Linked DNA regions of Homo sapiens. The protein of the gene in region 5 purifies or fractionates together with the protein of the main gene of each other region. This does not show direct contact. Each region holds a gene or a part of one and is shown on either strand. Other genes may lie near its edges. The genes, in order: DDX19A, PBDC1, MRI1, CAPG and TRUB1.

What was found.
Region 1: the proteins of TRUB1 (region 5) and DDX19A fractionate together in Homo sapiens (co-fractionation; one large-scale study listed by BioGRID). This does not show direct contact.
Region 2: the proteins of TRUB1 (region 5) and PBDC1 fractionate together in Homo sapiens (co-fractionation; one large-scale study listed by BioGRID). This does not show direct contact.
Region 3: the proteins of TRUB1 (region 5) and MRI1 fractionate together in Homo sapiens (co-fractionation; one large-scale study listed by BioGRID). This does not show direct contact.
Region 4: the proteins of TRUB1 (region 5) and CAPG purify together in Homo sapiens (affinity purification with mass spectrometry; one large-scale study listed by BioGRID and IntAct). This does not show direct contact.

What each region holds. Positions count from the first base shown.
Region 1 is NC_000016.10:70,370,885-70,373,883, forward strand, and holds the end of DDX19A (ATP-dependent RNA helicase DDX19A), read left to right. Parts: intron 1-487; coding exon 488-679; intron 680-1,040; coding exon 1,041-1,102; 3' UTR 1,103-2,499; downstream 2,500-2,999. UniProt on the Homo sapiens protein: ATP-dependent RNA helicase involved in mRNA export from the nucleus.
Region 2 is NC_000023.11:76,171,852-76,175,868, forward strand, and holds the start of PBDC1 (protein PBDC1), read left to right. Parts: upstream 1-1,210; 5' UTR 1,211-1,287; coding exon 1,288-1,317; intron 1,318-1,733; coding exon 1,734-1,799; intron 1,800-3,038; coding exon 3,039-3,098; intron 3,099-3,621; coding exon 3,622-3,762; intron 3,763-4,017.
Region 3 is NC_000019.10:13,771,012-13,774,529, forward strand, and holds the end of MRI1 (methylthioribose-1-phosphate isomerase), read left to right. Parts: exon of another isoform or gene 1-871; intron 872-1,109; coding exon 1,110-1,270; 3' UTR 1,271-3,271; downstream 3,272-3,518. Other genes in the region: C19orf53 (leydig cell tumor 10 kDa protein homolog), read left to right, coding at 3,467-3,518.
Region 4 is NC_000002.12:85,400,356-85,403,873, forward strand, and holds part of CAPG (macrophage-capping protein), read right to left. Parts: intron 1,804-3,518; 5' UTR 1,791-1,803; coding exon 1,768-1,790; intron 1,603-1,767; coding exon 1,430-1,602; intron 1,329-1,429; coding exon 1,174-1,328; intron 975-1,173; coding exon 810-974; intron 1-809. UniProt on the Homo sapiens protein: Calcium-sensitive protein which reversibly blocks the barbed ends of actin filaments but does not sever preformed actin filaments. May play an important role in macrophage function.
Region 5 is NC_000010.11:114,948,187-114,951,704, reverse strand, and holds part of TRUB1 (pseudouridylate synthase TRUB1), read right to left. Parts: intron 612-3,518; coding exon 556-611; intron 1-555. UniProt on the Homo sapiens protein: Pseudouridine synthase that catalyzes pseudouridylation of mRNAs and tRNAs. Mediates pseudouridylation of mRNAs with the consensus sequence 5'-GUUCNANNC-3', harboring a stem-loop structure. Constitutes the major pseudouridine synthase acting on mRNAs.

The DNA.
Region 1 (2,999 bases), on a different chromosome or scaffold from region 5:
ACTCAGGAGGCTGAGACAGGAGAATCGCTTGAACCCGGGAGGTGGAGGTTACGGTGAGTGAGATCGCGCCATTGCACTCCAGCCTGGGCAACAAGAGCGAAACTCCGTCTCAAAAATAAAAAAAGAAAGAAAGAAAAGGAACTCCCGCAGAAACCAGTAGTCCTGACTTGGTGGAAGGAAATGTACAGGCATCTGACTGGTAGAGAACGGAGCCTACTCTTCCAGGGGCGCCCATCTCCAGAACATTGTGTCTCCCAGAGGATTACCGACTGATCTCATGATTTTGTTGGCACTTGCCAAAGTTCTCTTCTTTTCCTCTGGGTTCTGTTGCCTGCCTATATGTGTGCCCTCTCTTGTACCCAGAGTTGGCCTGTCCCAAATTCTTTCCCTCTATCCCAAAGTTGGTACGCATTGACCTACCTATGGATGACAGTGATTTCTGTCTCCTGTCCTTAGTCCTCTCAGCCTCCAACTCTCCTTCCTGCAGGCATTGATGTTGAACAAGTGTCTGTCGTCATCAACTTTGATCTTCCCGTGGACAAGGACGGGAATCCTGACAATGAGACCTACCTGCACCGGATCGGGCGCACGGGCCGCTTTGGCAAGAGGGGCCTGGCAGTGAACATGGTGGACAGCAAGCACAGCATGAACATCCTGAACAGAATCCAGGAGCATTTTAGTGAGTCCCGGGGAGGGTCCTGTGCCTGGCGCCCTTTGCTAAGTAGGGCGGGGTGGTGAAAGGGGTAGGATCTTCTGTAGCCCCAAGAGAGGCTCTGTCCCTAGCACACTCCCCTCCTTTCTGACCATATGGCAGTTCTCAGGGAGCACACCTGGAGACTTCAGGACCCAGGGACTCCAAGGACAGCTCCCCTGTGACTGGGCTTCGGGGCGTGGGGCTCTGACTGTTGCTGTCAGTGACTAGGGGCCCTGCTGCCCCCTGCTTAGGCACCCGGAGCCTTTGGGCCTGAATGAATGATTGCTGTGGCCTGAGGTGGGGCACATTCCTGGGCAGGGTAGAGACTTGTGTATCTTTCCCCCAGATAAGAAGATAGAAAGATTGGACACAGATGATTTGGACGAGATTGAGAAAATAGCCAACTGAGAAGCTCCACCAGCCACTGATGCCAGCCCTGGCACTGCCCCTGCACAGGAGACAAGTGCATTTAGGGCACAGGCCCCGACATCACCCCAAGGACAACGGCAGAAGTAGAGAGAAACTACCTACCTCACTTCAAATTATGTTTGGACTTGACAAAAATAGGTGCAAATGATGGGGGGCAATAGAAGAAAAAATTTGCATTTTGGAAAATTGGGTCCTTTCCCCACTTTTTTAAAGCCACATTCCCCCATCTTTATAATAATCTGGTCACAGTGGTAGTCGCTGGCCCCAGGACCCCCTCCTGATTTTGGCTAGGCATCGTGGAACCAGCTCCAGCCCCTGAAGAAACGATAGATGTGCAGGTTGTGCGGAAGAGGCTGAGTGGAAAATGGTGTGAGCCCCACCGCTGTGCATCGAATGAGGGAAGTGGCAGCAGAGAGGCCAGAGCTGCCCCCTCTCTGTCTCTTCAATGGACCCTTCACAAGTGTTTCTCCTGCCCTTGGGGCTGTCTTCCTTCTCCTGAAATCCAGAGACTTTCTTGCTCATCCCTTCTCCCTTTCACTTCTGTTCTCTGCTGCAGAAAGCAGACTTGCATATCCCTGATGAGCAGCTCGGCTACTTTTGTAAACTTCAGATTTGGAGAGAAACACGAAAGTCTGAATCCTGACCCCTTGAGAGAGAGTGATCTGGCGAGGGCCGATGAAGGGGCTGGGCCTGGTCTTGCCTTCTCTTCTCTCGGTTGCTCCCTCTGCCTAGGCCCCTGGTACTCAGTCACGGCAGCCAGGAGACCCCAGGTGAGTTTCTGAGCGCATACGTAGTTGGTTCTTACCCCCAGGTGTCACACGGGGCCGAGAGCTGAGCAAGAATTTGGAATGGAAGTTATGACCAAGGGAATTATGCTGTTCATTTATAATAGTGGACATTATGGAGAGCTCTGATTCCTACATAATATGAATAAGGATGGATAGGCCGGGCGTGGTGGCTCATGCCTATAATCCCAGCACGTTGGGAGGCTGAGGCGGGCGGATCGGTTGAGCTCAGGCGTTCGGGACCAGCCTGGCCAACATGATGAAACCCCGTCTCTACCAAAAATAGAAAAAAATATAGCCGGGCCTGGTGGCGCACGCCTGTAGTCCCAGCTACTCGGGAGGCTGAGGTAGGAGGATCGCTTGAGCCTGGGTAGAGGCTGCTGTGAGCTGAAATGGCGCCACTGCACTCCAGCCTGGGTAACAGAGCGAGACCCCGACTCAATAAATAAATAAGGATGGATAAATTGTAGCGTATGCACCATTCATTATGCTAAGACATTTTAAAGTAATTATGAGAAACGCTCTACTAATGATTTGTTTTTATTTGTATTTTTCTGCTTATTAGACAAATATATACTCATTTTAAAAAGGCGTGTGTGTATATAAAGTGAGAGTGCTCTCTATCCCTTCTCTTCTGGGATCCTGATTCCTGGCAGCTTGGTGAATATTCTACCATATTGCCTTTTATTTGCATAAACCCATTTTTCTTTTACAAAAACAGGAACATTCTGTTCACACTACTATGCAACCTGCTTTCACTGATCAGCATGTGTTAGACATGTTGACATGTCCAATACACACACATCTTCCTTGCCCTGGAAACACCATCCACCTTCCTTTCTGCGTGTAGCTGTCCCGGCATTTATCTCCTGGTTCCTCTAGTGACAGGCATGGGGGATTTCTAGTACATGGCTGTTATCCACAGTACCACAATGAACATTTTTTTTTTCTTTTTTTGAGACAGAGTGTCACTCTGGCCCGGAGTACAGAGGCGTGATCTCGGCCCACTGCAACCTCTGCCTCCCAGCTTCAAGCAGTTCTCTTGCCTCAGCCTCCCAAGTAGCTGGGATTACAGGCACATGCCAGCATGC
Region 2 (4,017 bases), on a different chromosome or scaffold from region 5:
TCGACAACTTTTTTTTTTTGCTGCCTTTTTTCCTTCATAAATGCTTGACCTGCTGCTTTTTATGTCTTTACAGTACTTTAGAGATTTCTTATGAAAGCTCAACTAAACCTGAAGTACCAACTATCAAATTTATCTCTGATCAGATCTCCCTCTGCCTGGTCAATTCTATCTGAATGACCCATAGGCTCTTATAACTTAACTTCTCAAATTAAACTCATCATTTCTCCTCTGTGTTCCCTTGCTCAACGATATTTATGCCCAAATCCTATTCTGAAATCTGGGAGTCATACTAGAATCCAAATTCCCCTTTATCCTCTACATGAAATTAGTCAAAAAGTTCTATTGATTCTAAGCCCCATTAATTCTCAAAATTCATCTCAACTGCCACTGCTTTAGTTTAGATTTTCATCACCCACTGCCTTCAAACTGGTGTCTCTGTCTCCAATTTTGTCTTCCTCAAATTAATCTTCTATGTTGTGTTAGAGTGATCATAAAAGTTAAATCTGACCATGAAGCTGGCCTACTTAAAAATCTTCAGTAGCTTACTGTTGCTCTAAGGGTAAACTCTCTACTCTTTAACATTCAGCATACCAAAGGCCCTGTGCTCCCTCAAATGATTATAGATGACTCCACTTTGGATTCAGCTATACTGCTTTTGTAATTCCCAGCAAGGTGCCACTAATGGCTTTGTTTGTGCTATTCCCTCTGCCTGGACTGTCTTTCCCTGTCTGCTTGGCTAAGCTCCCCTTCATGATTCAGCTTAGGTATCCCCCATTCATGCTCCCACATCATCCGATGCTATGCTGTGAGCACTACTGTATCCGGTCCCTCACTATATCTAGTTGTTCCAAGGCAGGGACTAAATTCTTCATTCCTGCACTCTGCGCCCTAGCACCATGCATTTTCGTGAATCACTCCCTGGTTTGGGGTACTGGTGTGTATGTGTATGCGCATGTGCGTATATGCGCATATGAATGGAGAGTAAATTTGAATTTTTGCTGGGCACACGGCGCAGTGAAGACAAGAAAGGGGCACTATTTTAACACAACCTTTTCCCGTGATCACCACCGAAAATTACTGACGAGTCAATCACCTCAGATCTCTCAAGCAGTCCAGCCTACGCAACAGTACTCCACCTCTGCGCCTGTGCGGGGAGGGTAAGGCGGGGCCAGCAACTTCCTCAGCTGGAGGGAGAGCGCACGGTGGAGCCGCCAGTTGAGAAGGACTCTGATCCGGCTCAGCTTTCCAATCAGCTGCGGAAGGAGCCACGCTTTCGGGGGTTGCAAGATGGCGGCCACCAGTGGAACTGATGAGCCGGTGAGACGCTGTTCTGGGGTCGGGTGAGTGGGGAGGTCGAGCCAGGTGGAGCCTTTTTTTTTTCTTTTTTGAGACAAGGTGTCACTCAGTCGCCCAGGCTGGAGTGCAGTGGTGGGATCACCGCTTACTGCAGCCTCGACCTCCAGCGCTCAGATCTTCCGCCCACCTCATCCTCCCGAGGAGCTGGGACTACAGGCCCGTGCCACCACGCCCAGCTACATTTTTTGTATTTTTTGTAGAGACGGGGTTTCGCCATGTTGCCCAGGCTGGTCTCAAACTCCTGGGCTCAGGCGATCCGCCCGCCTCGGCCTCCCAAAGTGCTGGGATTACAGGCACGAGTCACTGCGACTGGCCTTGGGGGGAGCCACCGCGCCCGGCCTTGGGGGGAGCCTTGAACTCTTTTTCCTCCTTTCTAGGTTTCCGGGGAGTTGGTGTCTGTGGCACATGCGCTTTCTCTCCCAGCAGAGTCGTATGGCAACGATGTGAGTATGACTCACCCACAGCTCCCACCCACTCAGCTAGCCTGGGATCTCTGCAGGACCTGCCTGCCACTAAGTTATAACTTCACGTCCTGATAATCTACTGCAGACCCTCTCCACTTACACCAGAAACTGCACCTTCGTTCAGTTCGTTTTAATCTTGGTCCACAAACGCAGGACTAACGCCTGTGGAAGTGGTTCCCCAAGTTGGCCACGCTTTAGAATTACTGGGGAGCTTTTAAACATCCCGCTGCCTAGATTGCAGTTCATACCACCTAAATCAGAATGTCTGGGTAATGAGAGCCAAGAATCAGTATTTTTAAAGGGTCTCTGAGGGATTCCATTGTGCAGCTTATGGTGTGTCTGGTTTAGAAAATTACTGAGAAAGTATATGAGGTATTTTCCAAAACAAGACAAGAGGATGTGAGAATAGTAAAAACACCCAAATAAGAGTGTGATACATATAATGAGTGGGTCAGGCCATAAGATCCAAATAATTTAGCTGAAGGAGAAATCCCTAAGGGGCCAAGGCAGTGGAAGACTTGACTGAGGAAATGGAGCTTTACCTGTATCCTCAAAGTGTAGGTGGACAAAGGACATGGATTGGCACGTGGGAAAAGTGCATGGTCTAAGGCATGGAGGTAACAAATGCAAATGGCTTTTTCTGGAGTCAGTGAAATAGCTCGGTCTCGTTGGAATGGGAGATTCCAGTGGAACCTCCAGTGGGGTGCTTGGTAAGACTTATTATAACCTTGACCTGTTTCATGTGCTAATTCATTTCTAGGTGTTACAGTATGGGGAATTGGCTGTTTGGTAAACAAAAATGATTATGACATGCTTCAGTCTTAAAAGTGAAAAGTAATTTTCATTTTGATTCTTTGTTCTCCCAACAACTCAGTGGAATTGATGGGTATATTATTTCAGTTTTACAATGATTTAACTCAATCCTGAGAAGGTGATTTATCTCCTGCTTTATTTAGTCTCCCAGCTTTCACTAGCAGCTGGGAAAAGATAGCCGGTGGCTCATTGTGTTCATTATACTGTGTAGGTAGCTTTTTTTGGTTGTCATACAGACAAAATAATTATTGTCCAAATTTATTACTCCAGTTTTTATCATTTGACAGTAACATCAAGTTTGGTAGCCCTCTTGAGCATTAACTAGACATCCACATACTTCCTTAATTTGCTATTCAGTAGTAGGATGGGGAGATTTATGACCTGGCATTCTTCACTCCTTTGCAGCCTGACATTGAGATGGCTTGGGCCATGAGAGCAATGCAGCATGCTGAAGTCTATTACAAGGTGAGTTGTCTTTCTTCATCATTAAGCAGAATTAAACATGTAATTATAGTGTATGATGCTCTGCTTATCACTATTCTCAGCAAGTTAAACAGTTGTGTTTTGGAGATCGTTTTTATTAATGTAAGTTCTTACCCACAGACAACAGAGGAGCGAAGGCAAATTTGTTTCTACAATGAGTTCTGCTGCTTTGCCCAGCGTTATAATGCTAACTGACAAAAGGGCGTCTGGCCCATACATAGTAGGCACTTAATAAATGTTTGTTGAATGAATGAACAATCCACGGAGGGCAATAGCCAGGCAGTACTGTGGTTAAGTAAGCCAACTGCCAAATTGGTGGAAGGGATTGTAATAATATATTATGGCCTTAAACTGTGTCATGATTTCATCTAGGATGTAGACTGTCGACACTTCCTGAAGAGATCTTCTGCCCTGAGAACCATAAAGGTTTTCTGGTGGGGATGGGGAAGATAGAAGTATAGTAAATTACAGACTAGCATCTGTATGTTGTCTTACTGTTTCGCAGCTGATTTCATCAGTTGACCCACAGTTCCTGAAACTCACCAAAGTAGATGACCAAATTTACTCTGAGTTCCGGAAAAATTTTGAGACCCTTAGGATAGATGTGTTGGACCCAGAAGAACTCAAGTCAGAATCAGCCAAAGAGGTAAAAATTCTCTTTCTTAAATATTACTTAGCATTTAACCAACAATTTTTGATTGCGAATGTTTTTTTACATTTAAGCTCTTTTTTTGTTTGAGAAAAATATGTAAAGAACCAGAACTTCTTTTCTAGTTGTAATCAACTAAGTTAGGAAATGAATGTTTTTCCAGTTTATGGACTTTTCATGTTGTTGAGTCTATTTTTTTCTCCTTTTTGTCTTGGACATTTTAAATCTCCACCCATCAGCCCTTTCAGAGGA
Region 3 (3,518 bases), on a different chromosome or scaffold from region 5:
AGCTCAGGAGTTCAAGACCAGCCTGGGCAACATTGCCAGACCACAATCTCTAAAAAAATTGTTTTGCCAGGTGTGGTGGTTCATGATTGTAACCCCAGCACTTTGGGAGGCTGAGGCGGGCGGATCACCTGAGGTCAGGGGTTCGAGACCAGCCTGGCCAATGTGGTGAAACCCCGTCTCTACTAAAAATACAAAAAAAAAAAACGTTAGCTGGGCGAGGTGGCAGGCGCCTGTAATCCCAACTACTTGGGAGGCTGAGGCAGGAGAATCGCTTGAACCTGGGAGGCACAGGTTGCAGTGAGTTGAGATCATGTCACTGCACTCCAGCCTAGGTGACAAGAGCAAAACTCCATCTCAAAAAAACAAAAAAACAGCTAGACATGATGGTGCACATCTGTGGTCCCAGCTGCTCAGGAGGCTGCAGCAGGAGAATCGTTTGAATCCAAGAGGCAGAGGTTACACTGAGCCAAGATCGCACCACTGTACTACAGCCTGGGTGACACAACGAGACTCTGTGTCAAAAATAATAATAATAATTAAAAATAAAACTAAAAAAATAAGTGGGATGGGCCAGGTGCGGTGGCTCACGCCTGTAATCCCAGCACTTTGGGAGGCCGAGGCGGGCAGATCACCTGAGGTCGGGAGTTTGAGACCAGCCTGACCAACATGGAAAAACCTCGTCTCTACTAAAAATACTGGCTGGGCATGGTGGTGCATGCCTGTAATCCCAGCTACTCGGGAGGCTGAGGCAGGAGAATTGCTTGAAACCTGGGAGGTGGAGGTTGCAGTGAACCAAGATCGTGCCATTGCACTCCAGCCTGGGCAACAAGAGCAAAACTACATCTCACAAAAAATAAAAAAATAAGTGGCATAGATGTGTATAGGACTTTGAATTTTTCTTGGGGACTGACATTCTAGGGGCAGTGGCGAGTCTAAACTTACTATTGAGTACAATGTCCATGCCTGCATGTACTTTTGGGGTGAGAATCCTCAGGTTCTCAAGGACTCCCCAACTCCAAGAACCACTGTGGTAGAAACAGATGACTACAACCTGAGAACTTTCACAGAAGCAAATTCTTGCCTCCTTGCCTCCCCTCTCTCCCCTGCAGGGATTGGAGTTTGGAATCCTGCCTTCGATGTCACCCCCCACGACCTCATCACTGGTGGCATCATCACAGAACTGGGGGTCTTTGCCCCTGAGGAGCTCCGGACAGCCCTAACCACCACCATCTCTTCCAGGGATGGAACCCTAGATGGACCCCAGATGTAACCAACTCAGCTCTCCCTAGCCTGCCTCTCTAGGTTTTTCAATACATTTCTTGAATGGCTACCCAAAAGCTGACCGTCCAGCCCCTGACCACACTTGTTCCTAGTGCAGGGAGCTCAGACAGGGCCTTCCATCTAGAGCCCAGCACCTAGAGCCAGGCTGCCCAGATTCAAATCCTGACTCCGCCACTTTTCCCACTGTATGATCTTGGGCAAGTCACTTCACCTCTCTGTGCCTTGGTTTCCTCATTTATAAAATGTGGATAACAGGCCGGGCGCAGTGGCTCACACCTGTAATCCCAGCACTTTGGGAGGCCGAGGCAGGTGGATCACAAGATCAGGAGATTGAGACCATCCTGGCTAACATGGTGAAACCCCATCTCTACTAAAAATACAAAAAATTAGCCGGGTGTGGTGGTGGGCACCTGCAGTCCCAGCTACTTGGGAGGCTGAGGCAGGAGAATGGCGTGAAACTGGGAGGCAGAGCTTGCAGTGAGCCGAGATAGCGCCACTGCACTCCAGCCTGGGCAACAGAGCGAGACTCCGTCTCAAAAATAAATATAATTAATTAATTATTTAATTAAAAAAATAAAAAATAAATGTGGATAATACTAGTACCTCCCTCTTAAGGTCAGGGCTGGAGCTAGGGTGACATCTCCAGGGCAGAATTTTAAGAGGACACCAAAAAAGCTCAGCAACCAAGATAAAAAATATTTTAAAGCAATATTTTGTTTTGGGTTTTTTTTTTTTGAGATCAAGTATCACTCGTTACCCAGGCTGGAATGTAGAGGCGAGATCTCAGCTCACTGAAACCTGTGCCTCCCCGGTTCAAGCGATTCTCCTGCCACAGCCTCCTGAGTAGCTGGGATTACAGGCATGCGCCACCATGCCCAGCTAATTTTTCTATTTTTAGTAGAGACATGATTTCACCATGTTGGCCAGGCTGGTCTCGAACTCCTGACTCAAATGATCCCCCTGCCTCAGCCTCCCAAAGTGCTGGGACTACAGGCATGAGCCACTGTGCCTGACCTTACAGCAGTATTTTTTAAAAATCAAAATTAATGCAAAAATCCATGATGAGGCCAGGCTTGGTGGCTCATGCCTGTAATTCCAGCACTTTGGGAGGATCCCTTGAGCCCAGGTGTTTGAGACCAGTTTGGGTAACATAGGAAGAGCTTGTCTCTACAAACAAAAATTTAAAAACAATGAGCTGGGCATGGAACTCACACCTCTAGCCCCAGCTACTCAGGCTGAAGTGGGAGGATGGCTTGAGCCCAGGAGTTCAAGGATGCAGTGTGCTTTGATTGCACTACTGCACTTCACCCTAAGCAACAGAGTGAGACCCCATCTCTTTAAAAAAAAAAAAAAATCCATGATGAACAAAACAAGTATTTGTTTGAGACGGGGTCTCGCTCTGTCGCCCAGGCTGGAGTACAGTGGTGCCATCTCAGCTCACTGCAACCTCCGCCTTCTGGGTTCAAGCGACTCTCCTGCCTCAGCCTCCCGAGTAGCTGGGATTACAGGAGCCTGGCACTATGCCTGGCTAATTTTTGTATTTTTATTGGAGACACCATGTTAGTCGTGGCTGGTCTCCAACTCCTGACCTCGGGTGATCCGCGCCCCGCGGCCTCCGAAAGTGCTGGGATTACAAGCGTGAGCCACCGTGCCCGGCCTAAATAAAATTTTGAAGAGGCTAGAACCCCGCACTTGTGCCTTGAGCTTACTGACCTCAACACCCTGGTTCCACTAAAACTTTATTTACAAAATTATGCTGCCGGTCTGCAGGATGTAGTTTAACAATTTGATTATTTTGGATATTAAAATATTTTTTAAGTCTTGAAAATATTGTTTACTATTACCAAAGTTTTTGAACCTTCTTAAATTCTGTACCAGAGGTGAGTGCCACACCCTAACCTAGTCTGAGTTTTTATGTGTAAAGATCATAAAACGTTGTAAGTTTTCTAAAACACATAAGCTCTCAATAAACGTTAGCTTATCATTGTCACCGTTTTGTTCGTAATGTTTGAAAACTCCAACTGTGATCCACTACACTACCCTTGTGGGATGCTGTCTCTTTAACTCTGTGCCACGTTGTATCCCGTGAGTTCTTGCGTTTTTCCGCCCCGCTGTATCCCATGGTTCCCTGTGCCTTCCGGCTACGACTGCTCACAGTCCCGCCTCTTCCGCTGCGTGCCGGACCATGGCGCAGGGGCAGCGCAAGTTTCAGGCGCACAAACCCGCAAAGAGTAAGA
Region 4 (3,518 bases), on a different chromosome or scaffold from region 5:
CCTGTCCCCTTCCTTGTCTCAGCACGTGTAGTCCTCACCAAGAGCTCCTGGATTGATCTCCCTGCCCCAAATCTTCAGCGCCACAAGACGCAGCCCATACTCCTCAGCCAGCCAATCTCCTCATGACCTAGGGCTCACCTTCCACCTTGCTTAGGAATTTCCCTCCCCCTGCTCCTGTCCCCCAGCCCGGGTCCCAGTCTCACTAGACCCCTGGTGTGTGCATGTCTGCACCCTTCCCCACCTTGGTGGCTCAGCTCACCTTCTCCCTTTGCCTGGAGTGGCATCTCCCCTCCTATAGGTCTAGTCCAATGTCACCTTCCTGGGACAACTGGCTTCGGCTCAGGCTAGAGGGCCCCTCCCTGCCCCAAGACCCCCCCAGCACATGGCAGCTGTCCCCCTTAAAGCCCTCATCACATCCTGCCTCAGGTTATGGCAAGTGACTGGCCCATCTTGGCTGCCTCCCCAGAGCGAGCTTTTATGGTCCCTGTGCTGGCTCAGAGAGAGCATCATAGATTCACTGAACGAAGAGATAAATGACTGAATTAATGAATGGTCTGGCAGGCAGTGAACTCAGAGGCTTCCAAGAGGAGGGAAAAAGCTCCAGAGCATCAGAGGCAATGTCTAGATGGCAGAAGGAGGCTGGCATCAGTCCTTACAAATATAGGGACATTCTCCAATGGTCAGAGTGATCTCACTTGGAATGGGTTTACGGCTTCTCAGCTTCTCTCCCTCTTTCCTGGCCTCCTGCCCCTCCGTCCTTATAAAGGATGGTGCCAATACGGAGTGCTCAGTCTGGCCAGCCTACCCACCTGGCCCAGGTCCAGGATGAAGCAGTCCCCAGTGTTGAAGCTGTCCCAGTTCAGTGCCCGCTCGGTGGCACGGATGTTCTTCTTCCCCTTCACCTGGTAGAGTTTCTTGATGGCAGCTGGGGCTCCTGTGGAGGTCTTGTGAAATGCTGACTCCACACCACCTTCCTGCAGCCCAGACGGCCCATCTGAGTGGACTGACAGGAGACCCAGAGCCCTCTGCACCCCATCCCACTGGAAGACGGGCAGAAAGGTGGGGACCCGGCTCCAAAGGCACCCGGGTCTTCTGCAGGGTGAGAACCAGCCAGAAGCAGGGCTGGCTCTGAGGGAAGCTGCAGGGTGGGGGTGCCTAGAGGTGGGCTCTGACCTGGTACTTGAGGCCCCGTGGGAAGTAGCTCATGAAGAGGTCAGACTCATTGCCCTGCACCTCGCGGTGCTGCACAGGCCGCTCTCCCAGCAGCGTGTTGAGGTGCACAGCCAGCACGGCACAGGCCCCCTGCTCATCCCGGGATGACTGCTGGCCTGGGACAAGTGGGAGAGGGCAGGGCAAGGCCCTTGTGATCCATACCAGCCCCCTCCCTCCCCTTCCTGGGCCCAACCTTCCCCCATCCAGATCCCCTTACCTATCCACAGGTGCAGATGGGAAACCTCTTCTGGGCCATTGTGCAGCACTAGGTAGGAGTCCCCCGAGAAGAAGACGCCCTGGTTCTCTTGCGCCACAGGCACCGGCTTCAGCTTCTCCACCCGCCACACATGCAGGCCTGGATCCTGCACTGAGCCTGGGAATGGAGAGCCACTGCGAGAAGAGAGAGGGTTGACAGCAGCCTGGACCCACTTGCCCAAGCACAGCCCTGGGCAGGCCTGGCGACTGCAGTCTGGGGATGAGGAGAGCAGTGGGGAGGGGCAGCCCTTGGAGGTAAAGAAGGGGAAGTTGTGAAAGGAGATGGGGCATGCAGCTTACCTCTGGGGAATGGCTGTGTACATGCTGTCTTCAGATCTGGAAAGAAAGAAGAAGCCATTATTATTACAAATGCCACAAAAAGGACCTCTCACGTGGGGCTGGAGAGGCCCTTTCCAGTGGCCAAGTACTTTCATATTCATCAACTACTCCACCTCTAGGAGCCCTAGTTCCATTATGCAGACAAAGAAAATGAGTCTCAGAAATGAGTCCAAGGCCACACAGCTAGTGAGTGGTTCATGGAAATAAGGTCTCTGACCCCTGGGCCAGGGTCTTCCGTCTGCTGAGATCTCACAGAAATTAAAATAAAAGCAGAAATTAACAGAAAACAGAAACAAGAGAGAAGAGCAATGAATTTTTTTTTTGAGACTGAGTCTCACTCTGTTGCCCAGGCTGGAGTGCAGTGGTGCGATCTCGCCTCACTGCAACCTCCGCCTCCCGGGTTCAAGTAATCCTCCGGTCTCAGCCACCCAAGCAGCTGGGATTACAGGCAACACCATCACACCTGGCTAATTTTTGTATTTTTAGTAGAGATGGGGTTTTGCCATGTTGCCCAGGCTGGTGTTGAACTCCTAACCTCAAGTGATTTGCCCATCTCAGCCTCCCAAAGTGCCGAGAGTATAGGCATGAGCCACCATGCCTGGCCTCAAGTTGGCTTTTTTTTTTTTGGAGACAGAGTCTCACTCTGTCACTCAGGCTGGAGTGCAGTGGCGTGATCTCAGCTCACTGCGACCTCTGCCTCATGAGTTCAAGTGATTCTTGTGCCTCAGCTTCCCAAGTAGCTGGGATTACAGGCCCACACCACCACGCCTGGCTAATTTTTGTATTTTTAGTAGAGACAGGGTTTCACCATGTTGGCCAGGCTGGTCTTAAACTCCTGACCTCAGGTGATTCACGCGCCTCAGCCTCCCAAAGTGTTGGTATTACAGGCGTGAGCCACCGTGCCTGGCAAGTTGTTTTTTTAAACCGATAAAATTGATAAATCTTTAGACAAACTGATTAACAGAAAGAGAAAACACAAATATCAATACAGAAATGAGAGATGTGAGATCACCATAGATTTTACAGATATTAAAAGGATAAAGGGAATATTATAAAAACTTTATGCCAATATATTCAACCACTTATATAAAATGGGCAAATTCCTTCAAAGACACAAATTATGAAAGCTCATTCAAGAAGACACAGATTATCTGAACAGTGGCCATATCTATTAAAGAAAATAAATTTGTAGTAAAAAACTCGTTCCCCCGCCAAAAAACCCAAGCCCAGATGGCTTCCCTGGTAATTTCTACCAAAAATTTAAAAAGGACATAATACCAATTGTACACAAAATCTTCAAAAAAAGAGATGACAGAACACTTCTCAATTCATCCTATGCTGCCAACATTCTCCTGATAACAAAACCAGATAAATATATTATGCAAAAAGAAAATTACAGATCAGTATCTCTCATGAACATACACATACAAAAATTAACACAATTTGGCTGGACACGGTGGCTCACGCCTGTAATCCCAGCACTTTGGGAGGCCAAGGTGGGTGGATCATGAGGTCAGGAGTTCGAGACCAGCCTGGCCAACATGGTGAAACCCTATCTCTACTAAAAATACAAAAATTTGCTGGGTGTGGTGGCACGTGCCTATAGTCCCAGCTACTCAGGAGGCTGAGGCGGGAAAATTGCTTGAACCCAAGAGGCAGAGGCTGCAGTGAGCTAAGCCCATGCCATTGTACTCCAGCCTGGGTGACAGAGT
Region 5 (3,518 bases):
ACAGCTTTCCAGCCTCTCCTGCCTCCAAATAACCCCTTCTCTCTTCTATCAAGTGCCTGGAAAAGTGCTTTTGGATCTATTCAAGGTTACTCTCATATATGAACATACTTTATCATCTTAAAGAGGCCCTACTCTTTTCTTTAATAAACATTTATAACCATTGAACAAAGCATATTTTTGCTCAAAGGGCACAGTTTACAAAATGGTATTGTTTCTATAAAAATTCCAAGGTTTAAAAAAGTCTGTCACTAGAGTTTATGACCTCTAAGTCCCAATCATCTAAGAAATATGATGTTTTAAAAGTCTAAATATAATTTTGTTAAATGATGAGCACTGTAGCATTGTTTCTTTAAGTCTAATTGGTTTTTCAATTAAGAATTTCCAATTTTCAGTCTCGATATTTTCAATCTCAGATATGTTTATAGACATAATTAATACTCAGGAATGATACCCATTCATGCAGTTTACTCAGTTTATTTTTTATTTGATAAAAACCCAATACATGTAGATCATTAAGAACATTAAAGAAAAATAGAACTATTTCAGTATTCTTACCTTGGACCCTGACAACATACTGGTCAACATTTTTGTTCCGCTTCCAATTCCAACAACTACAAATCAAAGAAAGAAATATTATGACACTCTGTTCTGAAAACTAGGTTTTTAAAATAGCTATATTTTTTGGTCATAATTTCCCAGCTTAGGTAATGTGAAGTGGGAAAGAACAGATATTTAGCAAAATGTTAGGGCTCCTATTACTCCAAACAGTTGAACTTGTCATGCAACTAAGAAATTCTAAAGAAGGGACAAGAGAAGACCTTTCTCCCCATTCTCAAAGTATTAAACTCAGTAGAAACCTTAACCCAGCCAATTAGACAATGAAGCCTTAGAACAATCTCAAAGGACGCACTGGAATTTTATATGGGCACCAGTGAAAAACACACGGCACAATTAACCATGTTCAAGTGGGTATGATAAAGTCTTTTGACAGAATTCATTATTAAACAAAGCAAAAGCCATTATCACAGCTAATGAACCATTTAAAGATGATTAGCACCCAGCAGTATATACAATCAAGAAAAGAGAAACATAACAAATCAGTCTAACACAAAGAATACAAGGTAAAATGAAGGCTGAAGAATGTATTTACAGAGCCCAAAGTACAACAATGGCCTACCTTTCTCTTAAATTTCAAACATTATTCATACGTCAACACATTTCACTTGGTGAGGGTGAGAGGATTTAGTCACTTCTCTTTTTGTTAAGAAGCCACATTTTTGTAAGTATAGAAATATTTGTCATCAACAGATATAACTGTGCATAAGAACACAATACAATCACCACAATTCAGAATTATAAGAGTAAACAAGGACTACTGATTGGCAAACTAGAAAAAATATCTCCAATATTTACAGCAAATACCATTCAGTGAGTTTACCATGTATCAGATTCTACTCTAAATGCTCTCCTTTCATTATCCCATTTAATCCTTATAACAACTTTAAAAGGCCAGGTGTGTTGGCTCACGCCTGTAATCCCAGCATTTTGGGAGGTTGAGGCGGGCGGATCACCTGAGGTCACGAGTTCAAGACCCACCTGACCAACATGGAGAAACCCCGTCTCTACTAAAAATACAAAATTAGCCAGGTATGGTGGCGCATGCCTGTAATCCCAGCTACTTGGGAGGCTAAGGCAGGAGAATCGCTTGAACCCAAGAGGCAGAGGTTGCGGTGAGCCAAGATCACACCATTGCACTCCAGCCTGGGTGACAAGAGCAAAACTCTGTCTCAAAAAAAAAAAAAAAAAAACTTTAAAAGATAGTATAATTACCCCTGTTGATAGATGAGGAAACAGGAATAAGAGACTAAGAACTTTGTCCAGCATCTCACAACCAGTACCTGGTAGAGTTAAGATTCAAACCAAATGGTCTAAGAACAGACCCCCCTTCCTTTCCATTCCCTCTGCCACCTTAACTCACCTAGGCTTTCTCCTCACTGCAACCAGCCTACATCCCTGCAAACCTGACGGTTCTACATCCTATCCCTTCCTCTTCCAATTCATACCACTTCATAACCATTTCTGAAACCCTATTTTTCACATTACAAAGCCCCCCAAACAATCCTTAGTAGGGTCCCAGTGCCTACAGCACCAACTCCTTATTAAAGTATTCAAAGTCAATCCTTTGAAGCCCAGCTCAAGCCCCAACTCATTCATAAAGTCTATTCCAACCTCCTCAAAACCTCTATGACACTCATCTGTATTGTCCTTCTAAGTCATATAGTTCAAGGTCTAAGATCAAAAACAGTCTGTCCTCAGTAATCCTCTGAAGAGCATAATACTCTTCAAATGACAGAACTTGTAGATACTGCTGCTGATGAGGCAAACAGGAAAGATTCAATGCGACTTGATTCCATTCAAATAAATCTCCAATCAATTTTTCTTGAACAACTACTATGCACATAATCCCAAGAGGAATACTTCCAATGGAAAAACAAAGAAACCTGTGACACATTTCCTAACTCTGAAACAGCTTATAATCTCATCAGGAAAATAAAATACAGAAAAATCACAGTGCTCAAGAAATGTTGCCTAATGAGTGAATAATGCTAAATAACAATATGATAGTATATGATTAAGTGTCAAATGAACAGAGAGAGAACCGCTGCCAAAGCAGGGCAAAGGTGGGAGCATCCTAAACGGCTAAAGAGGCCGGAGAATGCTTCATTCAAGCATTTCGGAGTTTGTATTAGGCCTTTGAAGGATGTATAGGGAACACAACAGAGAGAAGAGAAGCATGTTCTAAAAAAGAAAATAATTGCACAAACTCTCAGATACAAGGATGAGAACAGTAGGTTTATCAACTGAACACAGGGTGTCTTAGAAGCAGACTGACATGTTTGACTTTAACATGGCTGAAATACTGAACTCATGATGGTTTCTGAGCTAGTTTAGTGACCCAGAAGGATAAAATTTAAAAGAAGCCATCTTAGAGTTACCCAGCTTAATCCTCTCATTTTAACCTAAGAATAACCAAATGCCATTGAAGTGAGGTGATTAGTGAAAGCAGAATTTTAGGAAGACTAATATGGTGGTGGCATATAGAAAAATTATCTGGAGTTGGGACCTAGCCAACCAGCAGCTTTTCATTCACAGGTTAGTTTCCCGGACAGAATTTTTACTCGGCATTTTTTCCCTTCAATCATTCAAAATTGTATCCAGTACTTATTGTGTAGGTACAGAAATAAATAAGACCTGGCTTCAGCTGTGATTTAACAATATAATAGGGAGACAGATATTAACAAAAACTAAAAGAACAAAATGAAATTTTACATTAGCAGTATAGAAGAGCAGCAGGCAGGCTTCAAAGGTAGGAAATGGCATTTCAGCTGAACCTGGAAAGGTCAGTAGGACTTCTACAACCAAAGGTGCTGAGAGAGATGAGCAGCTTATAAAAGAAAAACATGAGCAAAGGCACCACATTTGAAAAGGTGTGGAGAATTTAGAGAGCAGATGAATAA